Homo sapiens: one gene and its partners. The protein of the gene in region 2 purifies or fractionates together with the protein of the main gene of each other region. This does not show direct contact. Each region holds a gene or a part of one and is shown on either strand. Other genes may lie near its edges.

Region 1 (7,815 bases), on a different chromosome or scaffold from region 2:
TATTCATTTATTTATTTATTTAAACAGAGTCTCACTCTGTTGCCCAGGCTGGAGTGCAATGGGGTGATCTCGGCTCATTACACGCGCCTGCCACCATGCCCGGCTAGAAATTTTGTATTTCTAGTAGAGACAGGGTTTCGACATGTTGGCTAGGCTGGTCTCAAACTCCTGACCTCAGGTGACCCACCTGCCTTGGCCTCCCAAAGTGCTGGGATTACAGGCATGAGCCACCACACCCAGCCTATTTTTTATTTTTTGTAGAGACAATGTCTCACTTTGCCCAGACTTGTCTTGAACTCCTGGCTTCAAATGATTCTCTCACCTAGACCTCCCAAAGTGTTGGGATTTCAGCTGTGAGTCACCGTGCTCAGCCTAAACTTCGACTTTTAAAAGTTACATAACATCATCAATCTGGTTATATTTTATAAATGAGAAGGACCATGTCTCATTTTCCACTATATCATCCCAGCACCTGCCTAGCATAACACTATGCACATAATAGGTATTTAAGTGTGTATTACTAAAGAATCAACAATGAAAACAGTCAAAAAATAATATCCAGGGAAAATGAATAGCAAACAGAATATTGCAAGAAGGTGGATAGTAGTTTAAATTGAAAAGAGCAGTGGGAAACAAAATAGAGATTCCTCCATTATAAATCTCTCCTTACAGAAAAAGTCATTATTATTGTTTCACAATAAAACATAACAAAGATTTACTCAATTAAATGACAATTTATTACTGTTTCTTACCCAAGCTTTCTCTGTGTACTTCAAGTAAAAAGCCATCATGAAAATCTGGTTCACAGGCACATGGAACAGGTTTAGAACGAAAACGTTGGTTTCGATAATGTAAACATAAAGTAAACGTTGAACAAACTTGTCCAGGTAAAGGCTCAGGTTCTTGCAGATGTTCCAAGAAAGCTTTTCCACCCAAAACCTGAAGGTAAAGATACCTCCGTGTTGGATCAATATTAGCTGTAAAGTGTAGCAATATATATGAGGAAACTGCCAAATAACTTAAAAGAATGTGATCAAGACATTAGGAAATAAAAACTTGACAGATAAAAACCCAATACCAAAGACTAAAAAAAAAGCAAAAGAGTAACAAATTTATTACTGTATATGCCAGAATCATTTGCACTCTGGGGAGAAGATACACAAAATATGATATTCTTTTCTGAGTTTACATCCAGGCTACTTTCTCCCAGCTGGAAAAGGCATCAGAGCCAATATGTAGTATACTTTTGCTTTTTAACTGCTTATCCAACATTCCTCCACCTTCACAAACCAACTCATATAATTATCAATTCAGCAAGTGTATTTGTCAATTATATTAATATTTAAAAGCAAGGCTGTACAGTTTTTATAAAACATATTATTAAAACACAAGAAACTGGTGATGCTGTTTTTGCTTCTACCGTGCTATACATTAACTCTTCTGATATACTTCATGCAAAACAATCTGTTTTAGCCAACCATAAAATTTTAAGTATTTTATTTTGGGGGGAAAAAATGGAAATGTCTTCTATCAAATACGAAAGACTACACCACATCAATATTTACTATTAACCACAACTAAATTAATGTTAAAATATACATACTTTTTTTTAATGTCGATTGTCTATCAAAACAAATAGGTTGTTTTGGAGAGGAAGGGAGTTCTTGCTCAACACTGTCCTAGAAAGGCAGGAAAAAAAAATCAAAACAAATTAGAAAACAATTATAGGTTAAGGAAATGTCAATAAACATGACTAAGCACTGAACCTAAAGTCAACAGGGTAAGGCCCTTTCAAAGAACCCCTTATTTTCCTAGCCTAATTAAAATAATGAAAATAAAAGCCTGCATAAAAGATGATGTAAACTGATCACTCCTAAAATCAAATGCTAAGGAATTAAACTGTCTTCAAGTAATACTATCCACATAAAGCTAAAAACAAATCCTTAATACCTTCAACAAGGTTAAACTTTCTGTAAACCTTATGTAACAGTTGGCTTATAATTCCACTATGAGCTGATTTTAATAAAGTGTCATCACAGAGTAGAAGCTGTTATTAGGTCAATTTTTATAACAAACGGGTTCATAAACTTCAAAAACCAAAAAAAGGTGCTGTATTAAAATACTTATTCCCTATTGTATTATGAAGTCCATCCAATTTTCACATTATATTACCCAGGTATTGAGGTCACAGTTTCCATTATTGCCTCACTTTCAAATGAAGGCCTACTTACTAATTGTGCACTGAGAGACTATCATCCCATTATTGACCTATTTGTATTAAAAGATTTGAGGACTCTTATGCAGTCAATTATTTTCTTAAAGAAATTTGTAATTTGTTAATCATAGAGAATATAATCCCAAAAGAGTGCTTATTTTAAAAATACGCTTAATCTAAAAAAGTTACAGATCATAATGAAAAAGAACTTTGTTATGGTGAACTAATTGGACTAAAGTATGTATATTCAAATTTACAGACCTAGAAAATAAGAGAAAATTCTGTCACTGTAGAGACAGGAATAAGATATCTAACACAAATTTCATTGATACACAAAACTATTCAGTATATTCAAGGGCAGAGCTAGCCTATACTTGAAACAAGGACACTAGTAAACAGAATGACCTTGAAGTGGTTTTACTAAAACGAAAGGCCCCACATCGGAACCTTATAAGTAGTGTTACGCATTAGTATATACATATATACTCTCATTTATTTCCCTAAAAGATTACTCACAGTAACAAAATTAAGTTCTTTCATCACATCGTCAATGATTCCTCGACGTCTAAGGGCTTTGATCAAATCTTCTGTTGATAAATGCTGTTGATCAGGTGCCAATTCTTCCCGTATAGTCTCAGCAAGGATTTCTCTTATTCTACCATGGACATCCATCTATGTAGAAAACTCATATTACAATTTATAACATCACAAAGCAGTCAAATACTGCTTCTGAAGTTTTAAGGTTCTCCAGCTAACAGTAAATGCACAATTGTTACCACAATTGAATGGGAACAAAGGTAAGCTTTTAAAGAATGAATCTTTTGAGTACAAATTCTAGAAATAGTCTCCACTGGTTATCTGGCACCTTTGTTACCATTTCTCCACAAACAACACTCAACCAAAAGGAATCTTCTGAGAGGGAGTATAGTATAATCAGAAGAACACGGACTGGGAGTAGGCAGATCAAAGTATGATCTTATTACTTTCATACTTTGATCTGCCTAATGATAAGGGAATCTTACCAGCTTTCAACTTAGTAGATGTGTAACCTCAAGCCAACTTATTTACCCTTTATAAATCTGTTTCGTCACCGATAAGAATGGAAAAACCTAGTGTAGTGCCCTCTCACGATAGTGTTGTGAGGATTAAAGATACTAGACAGCACAAAGCCTGGCACACAAGGGCACCATAAATGGTCGCTTTTATCACTTCAGCATCTTGCACTCAGTCGAGCGAGCGCTGCAGAAACTGGAGGTTCTTCTGGAGCTCCGAAATATTAACAAATTCCGTCATTACAAACCCTTTAGTAACTTCTCTTCCATGACTTATTTGAGAATTGCTGATTGAAGCTCCTGGTTCAACTTCGCTGATACCCACATGTTTCAGCGGTAAAGAAACCCTGATATCTGCCGGGCGCGGAGGCTCACGCCTGTAATCCCAGCACTTTAGGAGGCCGAGGCGGCCGGATCACGAAGTCAGGAGTTCGGGACCAGCCACACCAACATGGTGAAACCGTCTCTACTAAAAATACAAAAATTAGCCGAGCGTGGTGGCGCGCGCCTGTAATCCCAGCTACTCGGGAGGCTGAGGCGGAGAATCGCTTAAACCTGGGAGGCGGAGGTTGCAGTGAGCCGAGATCGTGCCACTGCACTCCAGCCTGGGCAACAGAGAGACTCCGTCTCAAGAAAGAAAAAAAACCTGATATCTTACAGCAGAATATAAACCTCCAAATACAACTTACACTCGATCCGACTTCCAGAAGTCGCTCGCTAAGCGCTTCATTCTCACGGCCGTCCTAAAACGCCAAGACCGCTCGTTCTATCGCCCCAGACTCTTGCTAGCACCTGCTCGGCTCGTTTTCTTTCTCGGAGACGAGGACGCTCTCCTGCCTCAAACTCAAAGCTCTGCCTACTCTGCGTTGCGCACCCCACAATCCTCGCTACAGTCCCGGCAAGCAGATGCCGCTGTCGGCCCGGGGCCGCCGGGCAGGAGGGAAAGGTTATGGGTCGGCCCGGCGGTCTCTCCCAGCACCCGCGACTCTCACCTTGCTCAGCTGCTGGTGGATGAGCTGCTTCAGCTCGGAGGCTTTCTCCGGAGGCAGCGACATGCTGGCAGCCGGCGTCTCCCCGCCGCTTCTCCCCGCCTCAGATGCCCTAACTGCGCGGCCCCGGCCGGGCCAGGGAGCGTTAGGAGCGACTGGAGCACAAAGCGCCGCAGCCGTTCGCCTAGCGCAGCTCCCGGGGGACGCAACGCCGCGTCAGGCCGGGGGCTGACCTGGAAATGAGGCCCCGGCGGCGGCGGCGCCAACTGTTTTCAAACAGTGGCGGACAAACAGGGCTTGGGGCTGGCCCGCACGCTGCCTGATCGTTTCCGCCCGCCGCTCCACCTCCCCGCGGGCCCCGCACCCCGAGACCTCAGCGCACCCCATCGCCTTGCTTGCCAGGGTCTCCGAAAGCGCTGCTGGCCCCTCTTCGCGGCCACCCGGCGGCCTCTTTCCGCCCTCTGAACCGGCAGTTAGCTGGACGGGCCTCAAGGGCCCGGCGCCCAGGGACTCAAAGGACCCTCCCGCGCCCCGCGAGGCTCCGGGGTCTCGGGCTTCCGCCTTCTTGCTGCCCTCGTTCTTGCCAGGGCCGCGGTTAGTCCCTGCTGGCCACCCCACTGCGACCATGTTCGTTCCCTGCGGGGAGTCGGCCCCCGACCTTGCCGGCTTCACCCTCCTAATGGTGAGTCTCCATTTGCGCTCGGGGCTGCCGCCTCCCGAGGCCCCTGCGGTGTCGCCACCCCGACGCGGGGTGTTTGGCGGTGCCTTGGGAGAAATAGGGCACTAGTTTCTATTTCATGTTTTCGGCCGGAAAAAACAGGGAGGTTGTAGCCGGAGGCAGCCGTCCAAACAGAACCTTTGTCGGCTGTAAAACCAAACGTAGTCAAGTCTACAATTTGTAGTCTCTGTTTCCTGTAAAACGTGATGTGTTCGTACGTTCTAGATACACTGTACTTATGTTTTGCAGGGCATCCTTCAGTTTTATCCTAGAAAGTCTTTCTACGACTAGTTTTAGAATTAGTCTTAAGCTAGCATATTATCGTTGTTAACCGGAGAACTACTGATAGGGCAATAAACATTAACTCTTGCCGGTAGTTAGCGCAGTTTTATCGCTCTTTATATTCATTCATTGTTTTAATAAAGTCTGTTATGTGCGAGTATTAGAATAAGACTAGGTGCGTGCCCTCAAAGAATTTACACTGTAGTTGGAAACATGTAATCTAAGAGCAATAAATGCTAGGCTAGAAGCTTGAAAGGGTATAGAAAGGTCCTGAGATAATTGGGAGGGGAGGGACAGATGGCTTGTTAAGAAAGGCTTTATAGAGAAAGTAGTATGCAAAAGATGGAGGGCCCGTGGGCTGGGAGTAGGGGAAAGTAGGCGTTTCAGAAAGATGGATGTCTAAAACAGAGTCAGTAAGCAGGGGGACTTGAAGACTGCCAAGAATTTGGAATGACACATTGAGAGAGAATAGGCTGTAGGCCCTGTGAACCCAGAAGGCACCATTGGAAAATGCACTGTTTGGAGTGGTATAAGGCTGGAGAGAGCTGGAAGTGTCATCCTTATTCATTACATATAAAACACACAGCCCCAGAGAAGAGTGTTTCAAAAAGGAGGGAGTGGCCATGTCAAAAGTAGCCCAGAGATGTGTAAGGTGAAGAAAGTGTATGTTTGGATTTAGCGACATGTTAATGATGGTCACCTGGACAAACAGTTACCAGTGAAGTGGTGAAGAGGAAAGCCATATTGGAGTGGGTTGAATGAATGATAGAAAACAAGTTAAAGATTTGGGTTGTATAATATATATTCAGTCATTAATTCAGAGACAGGCATGATGGCTCATGCCTGTAATCCCAGCACTTTAGAAGGCCGAGTACAGGAGGATCGCTTGAGCTCAGGAGTTCAAGACCAGCCTGGGCGACATAGTGATACCTCATCTCTACAAAAAAATAAATAAAAATTAGCCAGGTGTGGTTTCCTGCACCTGTATCTCAGCTACTCGGGAAGCTGAGGTGGGAGGATCACTTGAGCCCAGGAAGCAGAGGCTGCAGTGAGCTGAAATCGTGCCACTGCACTCCAGCCTGGGCGACAGAGTGAGACCCTGTCTCAAAAAACTTTTTTTTAATAAGAGATAAAGTTTCTGCTTATGTTTTCGTGGACGACTTGGAGAATTTTTGCTACATAGAGAAACAAGAAATGAGGTTGCAGTTAGAGGGCTATGTGGGGTCAAGGGAGAGCCTTTTAGAATGAAAGATATTAGAGCATGTTTACGTGCTGATGGGAATAATACAATATTGTGAGGAAAAGAAGGATGGTACAGAAGAGTTTAACCCAAGTAGCAAAATCGTTGAGAAGGGAATTGCAGGAGGTAACTAGGCAATTGGTAGGTGACAACAGTGAAAAGTGGGAGAACATGCTGAGGGAACACCCGAAGGACAGAAAACAAAAGGAGTTGTTGGAAGAATGCAAAGGAGGAGCTACATTAAAAGGATACTTGGGGGATAGCCTCAATAAAAATTAGGCATGTATTAGATGTAGTTGGTAAGGGAATGGGAAGAAGTTTAGGTAGATTGAATAATATTGAACTTTTTTTTTTTTTTGAGATGGAGTTTTGCTCTTTTTTGCCCAGTCTGGAGTGCAATGGCACGATCTTGGCTCACTGCAACCTCTGCCTCCTGGGTTCAAGTGATTCTCCTGCCTCTGCCTCCCGAGTAGCTGGGATTATAGGCATGCACCACCACGCCCAGCTAATTTTGTATTTTTGGTAGAGACAGGGTTTCACCATGTAGGCCAGGCTGGTCTCAAACTCCTAACCTCAGGTGATCCACCTGCCTCGGCCTCCCAAAGTGCTGGGATTACAGGCATGAGACACCATGCCCGGCGCCCTTTTCTAAAATACAAAATATGGGGAAAAATTTGGGCAAAAGTTTATAGTTTTGGACATGTGGAATGTGAGTTTCCTGTGACCTAACCATGTGGAGACGTCCATTAGGTTGTGGAGCTCCTACGTGTTCTGGGATGTAGGTAGGGATTTGGCAGCTTCATTATTTTAAGTCATGGGAAAAAGAGAGAGAGAGAGAGAGAGAGAGAGAGAGAGTGTGTGTGTGTGTGTGTGTGTGTGTGTTTAGTGTGAAAAGATCACTTCAACCTTTCGGAATGGGTAAAGAGGCACTAATAAAGCAAATGGTAAGCAGACCCAAGAGTGCTTCTGTTCATACCTCGAAGCCTTTACACTTGCTTTCCCACTGCCTGGAATGTTCTTTCCCAGATCTCTGTACGGCTGTCTCCTTTACCTTTTTCAGGTCTCTAGTCATTTGTCACCTAGGGTGAGTCTTTCCTCGAACACTCTACTTAAAATTGCAATCAACCATGTACACACATCCTCACACTCACTTTATTTTTCTCCGTAGCAATTACCACTGTATATTTTAGTGTTTGTTTTGTTTATTACAGGTAAACCACTCTCACTGGAATGGAAGTTCCATGAGGGCATGAACTTTTGTTGGTTTATTTTACTGCATTCCCAGTGCCTAGAGCAACAATTGACATATAGTAGGCATT
Region 2 (8,193 bases):
GCGAATTGCTGCTGTGTGTTGGCTGCCCCTCTAAATCCCACAAGACAGGCACCCTCATTTTTCATCTTCATTTTTAAGCTGAGAAACTGAGGCAAGTTGCTCAAAATTAACAGCCAAGGAGGTTGATTCTGATGCCTAAAGTTTTACCTAATCTAAGATTTGCCATACCTGGGAGTCCTCCTGGTCTGAAGACCAGACTATCCGAGTTCCTGCCATTACAGGGCAGCAGAGGAAAACAGAAATCATCGTAACACAAAAACCGTTACTTCACTGGTGTCCACTCACACACCCCTCTCCGCCAAGCTTCAGAATCTTTCCTGTTGAGAGGATGGGAGAGCGTGTCGTGAGGCTGTGGAAATACAAAGCACATCAGCTGCAAAGCCAAACCGTCTATCTTCCAAGAGACATAAGGTTTCAGGAATCTAGGCCAGGCACAGTGCCTCACGCCTGTAATCCCAACACTTTGGGAGGCCAAGGTGGGCGGATCACCTGTCAGGAGTTCGTGACCAGCCTGACCAACATAGAGAGACTCCATCTCTACTAAAAACACAAAATTAGCCAGGCGTGGTGGTGCATGCCTGTAATTCCAGCTACTTGGGAGGCTGAGGCAGGAGAATTGTTTGAACCTGGGAGGCGGAGGTTGTAATGAGCCGAGATTGCACCATTACACTCCAGCTTGGGCAACAAGAGCAAAACTCCATCTCAAAAAAAAAAAAAAAAAAAAAAAACGGTTTCAGGAAGCCCACAAATGGGATGCCAGGGATGCTCAGATGGAGACCAAAGCAGTGGGTCAGTGTGGGAGGCCCTGGCAAAGCTACACAGTCAGGCGGCTGAGAGTGAGGCCACGCCCATGGCTAATGGCCGGATGGTCCTTCAACAAGAAAGGGTGAGACTATTAAACGATGAAGAGAGACGTGGCCAGGTGCGGTGGCTCACGCCTGTAATCCCAGCAGTTTGGGAGGCCAAGGCGGGCGGGTCGCAAGGTCAAGAGATCAAGACCAGCCTGGCCAACATGGTGAAACCTCGTCGCTACTAAAAATGCAAAAATTAGCCAGGCGTGGTGGTGGGTGCCTGTAATCCCAGCTACTCAGGAGGCTGAGGCAGGAGAATCGCTTGAACCTGGAGGGTGGAGATTGCAGTGAGCCAAGATCTTGCCACTGCACTCCAGCCTAGCGACACAGTGAAATTCTGTCTAAAAAAAAAAAAAAAAAAAAGAGAGAGAGAGAGACTTGTGGGGAAATTGATGGTGTCCTTGCCCATTTTTGTAAAACCAATCCTCTTCATCCTGGAGCTGGGAAAATCACACACAATGGGAAGGATAACGTGTGTAGCGATCATACAATTTGTCGGAAAAATTACAATCCTACCAAATCGGCACTTGACTAAGTCTTTGTTGGTTCTACAAATGCACACACCATAGCATTATCACCGACAATTTATTGAATATAAGACAAATTTAAGATACTTTGCTTTTTTTTTCATTTTTCAAAATAACTCCTTGAACTCTTTGCCCCACAATTGGCACCATTACTATTAGATTCCCATTTTATGTGAATGCACTTGAGTGAGTCTTTCTTTCCAGTTCCTTTACCCTTGGGTACTGGAGAACAGTCAATGGCATGCAATGAGGTCCTCTTCCATTCTTCTAGATATATAAATTCTGCCCAGGCATCCATCCAGGCTGCCAGAAAGTCCCTGGACCACCACCTCAGCCTAGGACAACCTTCCACCTCTCATTTCTTTCCTACTGTCTTTATCTTAGATCTAGACCCAAACCACCCAAACAATCCCTCACATAAGTGCTTAGCAGTGTCATCAAAAACAACATCCAGGCTGGGTGCTCACGTCTGTAATCCCAGCACTTTGGGAGGCCGAGGCGGGCAGATCACCTGAGGTCAGGAGATTGAGACCAGCCTGGCCAACATGGCGAAACCCAGTCTCTACTAAAAATACAAAAATTAGCCGGGCGTGGTGGCAGGTGCCTATAATCCTAGCTACTCATGAGGCTGAGGTAGGGGAATCGCTTAAACCTGGGAGGCGGAGGTTGCAGTGAGCCGAGATCGCACCACCGCATTCCGGCCTGGACGACAAGAGCGAGACTCCATCTCAAAAAACGACAACAACAACAAAAATCCATCTTGTTCTTCAACATCCCTTTTTTAAAGGTGATAAGTTTATTTCAGAGGGTTTTCTTTGAGAGGACAGGATCAGATTTCTTGTATCTATTTGCCTACAGAGAGGGAGAATACACAAACAGGTGAATAAAAGCGAGTGAACCTTTTGAAGATTTCAGATGGCAAAGCAATCCACTGGCAATTTGCTTGTGGGGTATGTGTGGGTGGATGTGTGTTTAAATTTAGAGCCGACAGAAACTTAGACTTTCCTGGGAAGTTGATATGCTTCCTGTTTTTTGAGTATTAGAACCATGAAACTCATCATCTCTCCTTTTGTGTACTGGCTGCAAGAATGCTCAAAAATGAATTTCCCCTTGATTTATGTCTATTTTGATCATTTTCTGTATGCATGCTTTTTATTTTAGGCCTCCAGAAATCATCATTGGAAGGAGCATGCTTCATTTGACTTGACTTGGATTGGATACGAAGTCATCAAATGGTGAGAAGAGGGAGTCAAGATCTTCCTTGGAGCTTCAGTGGTGTAAATGTCAGAGGTGTTTGAACCAGAGCAACTTCATCTTGAATAGGGGCTGGGTAAAATGAGGCTGAGATCTGCTGGGCTGCATTCCCAGACAGTTAAGGCATTCTATGTCACAGGATGAGATAAGAGGTCGGCACAAGCTACAGGTCATAAAGACCTTACTGATAAAACAGTTTGCAGTAAAGAAGCTGACCAAAACCCACCAAACCAACATGGCGATGAGTGTGACCTCTGGTCGTCCCAGCTGCTACACTCCCACCAGCGCCGTAAGTTTACAAATGCCATAGCAATGCCAGGACGTTACCCTAAAGGGTTTAAAAAGGTAAGGCACGAATAATCCACCCCTTGTTTAGCATATCATCAAGAAATAACCACAAAAATGGGCAACCAGCAGCCCATGCTGCTCTGCCTATGGAGTAGCCATTCTTTATTCTGTTACTGGTGGAGGGTGTCCAGGTTCTTGGCATCTTGAACAAAGAATTGGACAAAATGCACAAAGCCACCGGGCGCGGTGGCTCACACCTATAATCCCAGCACTTTGGGAGGCCGAGGCGGGCAGATCACCTGAGGTCAGGAGTTCAAGACCAGCCTGGCCAACATGGCGAAACCTCGTCTCTACTAAAAACACAAAAGTTAGCCGGGCATGGTGACGCACGTCTGTAATCTCAGCTACTCAGGAGGCTGAGGCAGGAGAATTGCTTGAACCCGGGAGGCAGAGGTTGCAGTGAGGATCACGCCACTGCACTCCAGCATGGACAACAGAGACTCTGTCTCAAAAAAAAAAAAATGCACAAAGCAAAAAAAGAATGAAGCAACAAAAGCAGAAATTTTTTGAAAATGAAAGTACATTCCATGGTGTGGGGGCGGCCAAAGCATAGAGGCTCAGGGCCCCATTACAGAACTTGTGAGGTTTAAATACCCTCTAGGGGTTTCTACTGGTTACTTGGTGTACGCCCTATGTAAATAAAGAGGATGAAATAAAGTTACAAAATCATTTACTCAGTGTACACCCTATGGAGAGGGTATTTCCTGTCATAGCTGAAGTGTTCCCTGCCTCCAGACCCTGTTTTCCTGCCTCAATTCCTTTACTTTTCTAATAAACTTGCTTTCACTTTGTGGACTCGCCCTCAATTCTCTCTTGGGGTCTGGATCGGGACCCCTTTCTGGTAATATAGACAGAAAATACGGCCTTGACATGGTTGTCAGGAAACGACAGTAAGGCCTCCGAGGGTGGGGTTCTGAAGGGATGTTAAACGCCCCACCCCGAGGAAGGCTCTGGAGGCTCCAATCACTTTCAGCCTCTGCTACCAAGATGTCCGACCCTACCAATAAAACTTCCAGCAGCGGGGCGCGGTGGCTCACGCCTGTAATCCCAGCACTTTGGGAGGCCGAGGAAGGCAGATCACCTGAGGTCAGGAGTTCAAGACCAGCCTGACCGACATGGTGAAACCCCATCTCTACTAAAAATTTAAAAAGTTAGCCGGGCCTGGTGGCGCACGCCTGTAATCCCAGCTACACAGGAGGCTGAGGCAGGAGAATTGCTTGAACCAGGGAGGCGGAGGCTGCAGTGAGCCGAGATCGCGCCACTGCACTCCAGCCTGGGTGACACAGCAAGACTCCGTCTCAAACAAAACAAAACAAAAAACCTTCCAGCTTGGAGAAACTGAGAGTGAGCAGTAGGGAGTGAGGGGGTCCCTGGGAGGAACCAGAACTCATCCCGCTTCAGGGTGGGGCTGGCCCCCTTCTTGGCCTTGGCCGGGGCTTCGTGTCACGGAGCGCCCGAGGGACGGTCGGAGCCCACCCCAGCCCGCCCGCCGCCTGAGCCTGGCCGAGCTCTCTGCACCTGCACACGTCTGTAAAACGCGGATGAAACGCTTCTACGGAACCGGGTGGCTGAGATGAAGTGAGTTATGGGTATAAAGCGCTTAGAGCGATGCCTGGCGGACACTCGGTGCCAAATAAGCGTTCGCTGTGGCGACGATGACGCCTCCAGCCCAAAGCCCGTGGTCGAGCAGGGCCGGGCTCCCAGCGCTAGGGGGTTCCTAGGCGCGGCGCTTCGGGGGTCCTGGACACAGACACGGGGGACAGAGCTCCTACCAGCGACGATCCCGAGGGTCTGCAGCAGAGGGGCTGAGGCCCGGGACGGGGGTGGTCGCAGCGCCCTTTCCTGAAAAAACGGGGTTCGGCTCTAAGGCGCCCCCAAGCCCTGCCGGCAGCGCGGAACCCGAGCCGCTCAGAAGCCCGGGAGCCCCAAGTCTCCGGGACCAGAAGCGCCGCGGCCCTGACTTCCGGAAGGTGGACGGAACCCGCGGACGGGGCGGGCCCGCGTGGCGCACGCAGAGCCACTTCCGGGCGCGGCGCCGGCTTGGTGAGCGCGGGTACCCGCGGGCTTCCCCGGGCGGCTGCGTCCCCAGTAGCCCGGCCGGCCTCGGCACCGCGTGTCGTGGGGGTCCCGGGCCGCGGCTGCAGGGCCGGGGCGGCGGCGAGGCCGAGGGGCGGGAAGCCACTGCCCGGCCTGGCAGTGTGAACGTGCAAGTCGATCCCCTAACCCAGAAAGCCCCAGGCGCGGTCTCTATGGGCGGCCCCGCTCCTGCTTCTGTTTTATTTTTTTACGGACAGGGTCTCGCTCTACCGCCCGGGTTGTAATGCAATGGTGTGATCACGGCTCACCGCAGCCTCGACCTCCCGGGCTGAAGCGATCTTCCCGCCTCAGCCTCCTGAGTAACTGGGACCACAGGCGCGCCCTGCTGGTTTTTTTTTTTTTTTTTTTTGGTAGAGATGGGGGTCTCGCTATGTTGGCCAGGCTGGTCTCGAATTCCTGGCCTCAACGATCGTCCTGTCTCGGCCTCCCAAAGTGCCGGGATGACAGGCATGAGCCACCGCGCCTGGCCCCTTCTTTTGAATGGGCCTCCTTGCGTTTCCGTTTCAATGCCCCGTGCTACTTTTTTGGGAGCCCCAAGGCTGTACTGTTTGATTGACTCCTTTTTTTCCCCTTTCTTTTTAACCTAAATTAAAGCTGCCACTGCAGAGCCCCGCCATGGAAGACACGCCGTTGGTGATATCGAAGCAGAAGACGGAGGTGGTGTGCGGGGTCCCCACCCAGGTGGTGTGTACGGCCTTCAGCAGTCACATCCTGGTGGTGGTGACCCAGTTTGGGAAGATGGGCACCCTGGTCTCCCTGGAGCCCAGCAGCGTGGCCAGTGACGTCAGCAAGCCTGTGCTCACCACAAAAGTCCTTCTGGGGCAGGATGAGGTAAAGTGGATTGGCCGGGAACTGTGGCTCACGCCTGTAACCCTAGCACTTTCAGAGGCCTAGGCGGGCAGATCGCTTGAGGCCAGGAGTTTGAAACCAGCCTGGGCAACACAACAACACACACACAAGTCACTACAAAAAAACAAGTGCCTACACAAAATATATATATAGAGAGAGGCTGGGTGCAGTGGCTCACACCTGTAATCCCAGCACTTTGGGAGGCTGAGGCGGGCAGATCACTTAAGGTCAGAAGTTCCAGACCAGCCTGGCCAACATGGGGAAACCCCATTTCTACGAAAAATATAAAAATTAGCTGGGTGTGGTGGCACATGCCTGTAATCTCAGCTACTCAGGAGGCTGAGGCAGAAGAATCGCTTGAACCCGAGAGGCGGAGGTTGCAGTGAGCTAAGATCGTGCCACAGCACTCCAGCCTGGGTAACAGATAGAGACTTGGTCTTAAAAAAAAAAGGAAAAGAAAAGGAAACAAAAAATTAGCTGGGCCTAGTGGTGTGTGCCTGTGCTCCCAGCTACTTGGGAGGCTGAGGTGGGAGGATGGCTTGAGCCCTGGAGGTTGAGGCTGCAGTGAGCCATGATTGTGCCACTGCGCTCCAGCCTGGGTGAGAGAGCAAGACTCTGTCTTTAATAATAATAATAATAATAATAATAATAAAGTGGTCAGGAAGGGACCCCCAGGGAGGAGCATAAACCTCTCCAGTGGCTGTGATTTGTCAGTAAGGACATGGGGCATCTGGCGGACAAATACCCCTACAGCGATAGCATTTTCCGGGCATTTGTGGGTCTCAAGGCGCCCTGCTTGCCCTCAGTGGATGCTTTGTCCAGCCCGCAGGCATTTTATCCAGCAGACAAGCAGAAGCAGCAGTTTTGTCATTCGAGCCGCCTCCCCTGCCATGGTACATTACGTGAGCAGGCGGCTGGCTGTGCTGTGCTCTGTGGAGATCACACGTGAGATTCGACAGCACTCGCTTCTGCAGGCTTCTCTTTCCTGGGTTCTTTTAGATGAGAGAGAGCCAGAAGAGGCGGGGCTGCGGAAGGCGCTGGGAAAATGAATGGAGTGATGGTCTTTAGCAGTGTGCCCGTGACTGGAGTGTTCTGAGTGCTGCCAGAACTCTGAGTCACAGTTGCATGGACTTATGTGGCGGTTAATGGTGGTGTGGGAAGCCTGCCTGGGTTCCTAAGGGATACTTCATGAAAGCATTGAGGAAAAAACCAGGTTTCTTGCAGTTAAAATGGTTTCTTCTCCTTCCTTTACCAGCCTCTCATCCATGTCTTTGCAAAGAACCTGGTAGCGTTTGTGTCTCAAGAAGCTGGAAACAGAGCAGTCCTCCTCGCCGTGGCCGTGAAGGACAAAAGCATGGAGGGGCTGAAGGCGCTGAGGGAGGTGATCCGGGTGTGCCAGGTGTGGTGACCTGGAGGCAGCCGCCCCGCGCTGCTCAGCAGGACACGTGAACACCCAGACACCCACTCAGGGACTCAAGTCTCACCTCCCTCCCCGGTGGAGGGAGGAACTTTGGCACTAGCCCTTGGAGCCAGGAAAAAAGACTCGTGTCTCAGGCAGACTCTTACTCTGGTTACTAAGATCATCTGTGCATGACGGGGAGGGTGGAACAGGTCCCGGAGGAGTCGTGAATGGTTCTCACCAGGACCTGAATCGTTGCTTGTGTTTGAGAATTGGAGGAATGAGTCAGCAGGCGTGGCTCATGGCCCCCCCGTGTGCAGGATCAATTGTAGGAGGAAATTTCTTTTTTATTAAAAGCGAATGTGTATCCCAAAATACTTCACTGTCCTCCTTAACAGTAGCGAGACATTGCAGCCGCACAGCATGAGTTCAGTTTCATGGGCTTCATGAAGGGAAGCTTGTTGGGCAGAAACGCAGAGGGACGTAGTTCCCAGGAACTGGGTGGATCCCATGCTTGGGCCTGTGCACGCTGTCACCCAGCTCCAACTCCAGTAACTTCTCTGAGCCTGCTGGGAAGCTGGTGGCCGTCAGCGGACATCTCTTACTATCTTAATGTGTGTGCCCGTTACCGTGCTGCAGCTGGGGACAGACGCTGTCCTCTGAATCCTGCATAGCAAGGGAGGGGGGACGCTTCTGTCAAGGGAGCAGCGTGCACAGAGGTCAGGAGAGAGGAGCACGGGAGGGCAGGGCACTGTGGGGTGGGTCGCCAGGGTTCACTGGGGTGTGGCTGAACATGACCTCCGTGTGGGGGTAGGCGCGGGTCCTTCTGGGCTGAGGCTGCAGGACTTAGTCTTGTGGGGAGCAGTGT
Region 3 (7,000 bases), on a different chromosome or scaffold from region 2:
GACAGCATGAGCAGAGGGGTGCAAGGGTAGGAGATAACGTGGCTTGAGCCAGTGGGCTGGGCTATACCTGAGGGATTTTGTTGGAGAATAACGAGTAGTGAAGTTGGAAGGGAAAAGTGGCATCAGGATATGAAGGCTCTGGAAGTTTATTTGGATATATTATAGGCAGTATAGGGTGATGTTAATTCTTGAGAGAAGAAATATAATGATAATAGCATTTTATTAGATCAGTCAGGTTATAACATTAGAGATACATTGAGAGAGATTAAAGATGAGAGAGGCTATTGAAGTATCTAGGCATGGAATATGAATAACATTTGTTCATATTTGGCAGGCACCATTTTAAGCATTTTATAATATATAATGTGTTTACCCTTCTTATTATTATTGTCATCCTCATTTTGCAGGAAATGGGCATAGAGGAGTAGATGACTGGGAGTTACGTAGAGATAGAGATGAATTCCAGGTATATTGTGGACTTCTAGCGACCTTAAATAATTAATAGTTTTACGTTGTTGGTGGTGATGATGGTGGTGGTTCTTTTCGTCCCTCCCTACCTTCCTTTATTACTTTTTTGGAGGTCAGGTAGGTTGGGGAATATCATCACCTCTTGGGACAGACCAAGGTAGATGGCAGAGGTGAAAAGAGGCCAGGTCCAGAGAAGACATTAAGAGTTTTATTACTTTCTTGCCCACTATGTTTAGAACTTTTGAATCCTCCGTCCTCCAAATATTGGCATTAGAGAGTGGATTTTTCCAGTGTTTGAAAGACTTTGTTGAACTTACTCTTTTGGGGTTCTGGGAATTACATGGGTAAATTATAAAGAAAACATTAAAAATTTTAAAAAAATTTAAGGGAGAAAAAAGAACTTTTTAGAATCACAAAATTCTGTAAATCAATGTTCTTGCTATTGACAGGAATAGTATATTAATTACTTACAGTATGTTAGGGTGCTCCTTCTCTCTGCCTATAAGATGTGGCCAGTTGAAGTTTCTATCATGTGAAGATTTACAGAGAGCTATCTGGTGAGTATGTAAGACAGTTATTTGACCTATATATGGTAATCATAACATGTTTCTCTTTAGCTTGGTTCTACAGCCATTGGGATCCAGACATCAGAGGGTGTGTGCCTAGCTGTGGAGAAGAGAATTACTTCCCCACTGATGGAGCCCAGCAGCATTGAGAAAATTGTAGAGATTGATGCTCACATAGGTAAGGAGTGGAGGAAAGCTGTTCTGTAGGATCTGGTCTGGGTTAATTAGTCCTCTATGATGTTCCAAGGAAGGTTTATGAAATGAACACGTTATCCCCTTGTTAGCTATTATTTTCCAGGCAGTAGGCCAGAATGCGTAAATGTAGGAGTAGGAGGCTGTTGCAGGACTCATTTATGTTTAACCTACTCCCATAAGTTCCTTTCCCCTCAAATTTAGACTTGGTAAATGTGATGGTTGTTGAAATATGCAAAGGTTGAGATCTTTGAAGTGACTACAAGTTATAAGAATAATATAGACTTGCCTAGATCAGTCTTCCTCCTTTGTTTTCAGATTATCTTTGTATTCCTTGTTGCCTCTGCCCACTTTTTTGGTCTTTAATTCCCCTGCCTTGGCTTCTGACATCATTGTATAATAGTATTACAGGGTGAGTAATTCTACTTATTTATAGAATGGCATTTTATTTGGCTATCCAAATTTTCTTAACCTGTCTAGTCATCTAATTAATGAAGCATTGGCAAAATAATTAATTGCTTGAAGGCATCAGAACCAAATGCCATGGTGACTCTGGGAGCTTGATATTATGTCTTTCATAGATATAGAAACTGAAATTTTATCTTTTAAGATTGGAACATTGTGTCTTCTTTAACTCAAGTCACTTGGTCTTTTGAAGGTAGCTCAGTGTCACTGTGTTCAACAAATTGAGAGCCTACAATGTGCCAGACCTTATGCTAGATACCAGGATATAGAAAGGAATAAGACATAGTCCTTGTTTTACAGGAGCATACAGTCTAATTGTGGTGGTGGACATGTAAGTAAGTCAATGCAATTAAGTGACAAAAGTATTAAGAAAGACTAGTGTGTTCTTAGTAGGAGTACAAGGGAAGAAATAATTAGTTTTGCCTGGAGTCAGCGGTAGTGGGGCTTTCAGAAAAGGATTCCATGAAAGTGATTTTGAGCTGAGTTTAATTCTGAAAGATAAGGAAGTGTACACAAGGCAAACAAGTGTCTGGGTATAGCAAGGGAGAGCATTCTAGTCAGGGGGAATAGAAATGACTGAAGCCATCGTGGTGTAAAATATAAAATACCATGTCACAAGCAGTTTTGTAGGCCTGGGCCATGAACTGCAGCAGCAGAGTCGGTCAGAGAGCGGAATTCCTTTTTTACCACACTGAAGGGCTTCAATGTAATCCTTTTGCAAGGATGGGAAAGGTTTTAAGCAATGAGGTAATAGGATCCCATTATAATTTTAGAAAGGCCATTCTGATAATGATATTAAAGATAGACTAAAGAGGGCTGAAACTGGAGGCACGGAGGCCAGTTGAAAAATTTGTAATAGTCCAAACAAAGAGATGGTGAAGGTTTTAACCAACACAGTAGCCAGAGAATGGAGAGGAAGATAGAAATTGACAGAACTTGTGATCTGATTGATTGTGAGGGCCAAGGAAGAAGACGGGGTCTGGAAGGGAAATGAGTGTGTGATATGTCCAAGTAGATATATTAAGGAAGTTATTTGGCTTTATATGTCTGAAACTTGGGAGAGAAACTTAGGCTGGAGATTTAGATTTGAGCCATGGCATGTACAATAACAGTTATAGCCATAATCGTGACAGCTTGGGCCATCAGGCAAACTCTCTCTGATATAACTAGTTGCTTTGTGTTTGGGACAGAGAGGCAAAAGGCTTTTGATTTATTCGAGAGTCCTCCACTGTAGTCCATAGTGAGGTGATTTTCTTTTCCTTGTTTCCCAGGTTGGGGCATTAGTATTTGCTTCGTTTGAAAATGTATCATCGTCTACAAAGAGTGCTAAAGGGATGCTTAGGGATGTAATATGTGGAAATTCATGTTTGGTTAGCTGCTTTTCTCTGGGCTTATTTTTATCGTCTGGACTTCTGTGTCATTGTGGATGGTTTTTTGTTTCTAATATCATTAATACTTGGGTTCAGTGCAGATCATTTCCTATCTAATCTTTTGGGTATAAAATGCCATGGGATAGCTGAATGGCTGCCGTGGTTCCAATCCAGAATTTCAGGATTTCCTGAGTGGATGAAAGAGTTTTACAAGGATTTGGCCACTGGGTCACTGTCGCTTTTACATTGCAGGTTGTGCCATGAGTGGGCTAATTGCTGATGCTAAGACTTTAATTGATAAAGCCAGAGTGGAGACACAGGTAAAATTGGCATTATCTCCTTTTTACCAGGATGCTTGAGTTCCTTGTTTAGTGATTATCTAGCTGCCTGGGCTATACTGCAGGTACCTGTGTCAATATTAGATGTGGCTCTTGGGAGTAATTTTGGGTAGAATTCCCAGTTAGAACTTCCTGGGGCTTGGAGTTTAGCTGTCCAATCATTGCAGTTTTAAAGAGGCTCTGGTCAGTAGTGCTGACAGTGTCTTCCTTTTTTTTTTGGCTTTGCCTATATATAAAGCATGCATTGTTTCCTAATTGACTTTGTGTGGGAGCATCATGGCAGGAGGTGGACGTAGTTAAAGGATATTCTCCCCTCAGCTGCCTTTGCTGCCAGGCTTGTAAATAACAGCCCGCCTTTGGTGAGTAATAACTTGTACCAACTGACAAATACTGGTCAGGGATACTGTTTTTTTTTTTTTTAAACTTTGTAGCTGCTGCTTGAAGATAGGCTAGTAAGAAAAATACATCACATGGTAAAATTTTTTGTACTTATTTGCAAGTTTGCTGTCTGTACTTATGTAAGAATAAGTCATTTGAACATCAACAGAATAAGCTAGAGTCTTTGAGGGAAAGAGGCACTTTTAGTTTTTGAAAGAGTAAACTTGGTGCTTTGAGGCATAACCCTCTTTTTCAAGGCAGTAATTCTCTTGTCCGTCGTTGCGTAGAGTCCTTGTGATATGTTTATTTCCAGAGCTATTTCTCTTCCTCTCATGTACTCCCAAGTACTCAGGGTTAATGTTAATTAAGAAAACCACATTTGAGCCTTCAGTTTTCAATCCCAGTTTAAAGGGATGTGCGTAGTGAGATGGTGGGCTGCTTTAATGTCCTTATTAGAAGGTTGTACCATGCTTTGCTCTTCTTCTAGAACCACTGGTTCACCTACAATGAGACAATGACAGTGGAGAGTGTGACCCAAGCTGTGTCCAATCTGGCTTTGCAGTTTGGAGAAGAAGATGCAGATCCAGGTGCCATGGTGAGTGTGATACTTCTGTCGAGTTTTCTTATTGTTCTATGGGACTTAGGACATTTGTCCTGTGAACATAACATTCCCAGCCCCTCTCACCTCCTTACTTTATAGCCATTTATCTTAATATCTCTTATTTTTTGGTTCTAGTCTCGTCCCTTTGGAGTAGCATTATTATTTGGAGGAGTTGATGAGAAAGGACCCCAGCTGTAAGTACCATTTTGTAATTTTCCCCCATGCTTTTGCAGGGAATTATTTTAATTTGGGGTGGAGACTGAGAAGATTATTGTAGACTGTTAGCCAGGTATTAGCACACACCTGTAGTCCCAGCTACTTGAAGGCTAAGGCAGGAGGATCTCTTGAGCCTGGGAGTTGTTATCCAGGCTGTAGTGAGCTATGATCATGCCACTGCACTCCAGCCTGGATAACAGAGCCAGACCCCATCTCTTTAAAAAATACATTAAAAAAAGATTATTGTAAAAAGGGCTATTGTAGAGTGTGTGTGTGTGTATGTATATACATATATATGGCTTCTAATACTAAAGTTTAGTGATTCTATACCGTTTGCACAAATTTGGGGATTCCATGAAGAATTCCCCTATTGGAACCAGTGCTAATTCTGGAAGGAATTAGAAGTAACTTGTTACTATAGTCAGGGTATGTTTTAGAACTTTGCTCTGGAATGTTGATCTGATCCTCATCCTCAAATATTTCTAAGATAGGCATAAACAAGTACCATATTTATACATACTATACTTCTAAATCCCTAAGGAAGGTACTAATTTTCTTAAACAGTTTTTAAAATGTCTGGTTTCTCCAGACATAGAACATCTTTTAGATCTGTGCCTCAATATTTCAGTGGTGTTTCCTGGCTGCAGGGCCAAGCATTTATACTTTGTTTTAGTGAGACGTTTGTTACATAAAGTGCCACCACTCCTGAGCATTTTAGTCCTCATTTTGGGGGTTTTGCAGGTTTCATATGGACCCATCTGGGACCTTTGTACAGTGTGATGCTCGAGCAATTGGCTCTGCTTCAGAGGGTGCCCAGAGCTCCTTGCAAGAAGTTTACCACAAGGTAATTAAGTATTCTCACAACTCTTACTATTTTTTTATCATGGTATAATTTACATATAATAAAATGTGCAAACCTTAAGAGTTCAGTTCTGTTTTGACAATTGCAAAACAAGATAAATAACACTTTCATCACCACCAGAAAAATGCTCATCCACATTCCAGTCAATCTCTTTCCCTCCCTTGCAACCATGTTTACCACCATGTTTACCACTCTCCATTAGTTTTGTCTGTTGTGCTTTGTTATAAATGGAATTAAACAGTTAGTCAGTTTGTATCTGTTTTGTTTAACACACTGTTTTTGAGATCCATTCATGTTGTTCCAGTATTTCCGTTTGATGGCTGAGTAATATACCATGGTATGGATGTACCACAATATGTTTATCCTCTATATTCACAGCTTTACTTAGCACTTTACAATTGGCTCTTGAAGCAAGTGGGCATTTGGTATTTTCTTTGTGAGATGGGAAGATTTGGTTTTGGGTAACTCATTGGTGTGATTGAAGGCTGCTCTACTTATTCAGGTGGTTCATACAGGGATGCCTGCTCACATTAGCTCCTAATGGTATTGCTTTTACATGTGGAAGAAATTAGGTACAAAACAGGGTAAATTTGAATTTTCTAAACCATTGGGCTACCTCTTAGATCATTTGGGCATTATTGTTCATTGGATATTACCAATAATATTATCTTCTAAATTAAAAGAGGAATTCAAATGTACACAAGACTAGTCTATCCCTTTCCCCTTCTTCAAAGATTACTTTGGTTGGTGACTTTATTGTGGCTCACAATAAGGTTTGGGGGTTTTTTTTCCTGAAAAAATGTATTCTACTTATTTGCCATTTACTTGAGTTCTGGAGATACTTGTAATGCACCATACTAAGTAAGATGTTTGACATACTTGCTAAATACTTTTTTCAGTGAGATAAAGGGAAAATCTTTGAAGGAAGGACGGATTGTGCATAATTAATAGGCATCTTCTTGCCTTCTTTGTTTCAAGTCTATGACTTTGAAAGAAGCCATCAAGTCTTCACTCATCATCCTCAAACAAGTAATGGAGGAGAAGCTGAATGCAACAAACATTGAGGTACTTTCTGTTTTATTGTTGGATTTTTTTCGGTTTTTTTTTTAAGAGATGAGGTCTGGCTATATTGCCTAGACTGGTCTTGAACTCATGAGTTCAAGTAGTCCTCCCACCCCAGCCTCTCGAGTAGCTGGGACTACAGGTGCACACACCATGCCTGGTTAATGTTTTTTAATTTTTTTAGAGATGGGGTCTTGCTGTGTTGCCCAGACTGGTCTTAAACTCCTGGCCTCAGGCAATTCTCCTGCCTCAGCCTACTGAGTACCTGGGACTATAGGTGAGAGCCACTGCACCTGGCTGTTTTATTGTTTTTTATTCAGATATCATAGCTGGCATTGCTGAAGACTACATAGATCATGGAAATGACATTTTTGTATGTTTAGTTCCTAAGAAATTATTAACAGCCTTTGAATAATAAGCAGCTTCAGTAAAGTGGTGCTGGCAGAAGCCAGAATTCAGTGAGTTAAAGAATGAGGCCTGGC

What was found.
Region 1: the proteins of PSMG3 (region 2) and PSMG2 purify together in Homo sapiens (affinity purification with mass spectrometry; 6 studies listed by BioGRID and IntAct, with this or other methods). This does not show direct contact.
Region 3: the proteins of PSMG3 (region 2) and PSMA5 purify together in Homo sapiens (co-immunoprecipitation; 4 studies listed by BioGRID and IntAct, with this or other methods). This does not show direct contact.

Annotation. Positions count from the first base shown.
Region 1 is NC_000018.10:12,698,227-12,706,041, forward strand, and holds the start of PSMG2 (proteasome assembly chaperone 2), read left to right. Parts: upstream 1-4,815; 5' UTR 4,816-4,881; coding exon 4,882-4,938; intron 4,939-7,815. Other genes in the region: CEP76 (centrosomal protein of 76 kDa), read right to left, coding at 753-977, 1,604-1,679, 2,732-2,887, 4,260-4,322. UniProt on the Homo sapiens protein: Chaperone protein which promotes assembly of the 20S proteasome as part of a heterodimer with PSMG1.
Region 2 is NC_000007.14:1,566,839-1,575,031, reverse strand, and holds PSMG3 (proteasome assembly chaperone 3), read left to right. Parts: upstream 1-4,999; 5' UTR 5,000-5,692; coding exon 5,693-5,908; intron 5,909-7,181; coding exon 7,182-7,334; 3' UTR 7,335-7,700; downstream 7,701-8,193. UniProt on the Homo sapiens protein: Chaperone protein which promotes assembly of the 20S proteasome. May cooperate with PSMG1-PSMG2 heterodimers to orchestrate the correct assembly of proteasomes.
Region 3 is NC_000001.11:109,409,449-109,416,448, reverse strand, and holds part of PSMA5 (proteasome subunit alpha type-5), read left to right. Parts: intron 1-1,085; coding exon 1,086-1,212; intron 1,213-3,313; coding exon 3,314-3,381; intron 3,382-4,264; coding exon 4,265-4,372; intron 4,373-4,513; coding exon 4,514-4,572; intron 4,573-5,335; coding exon 5,336-5,438; intron 5,439-6,434; coding exon 6,435-6,521; intron 6,522-7,000. UniProt on the Homo sapiens protein: Component of the 20S core proteasome complex involved in the proteolytic degradation of most intracellular proteins. This complex plays numerous essential roles within the cell by associating with different regulatory particles.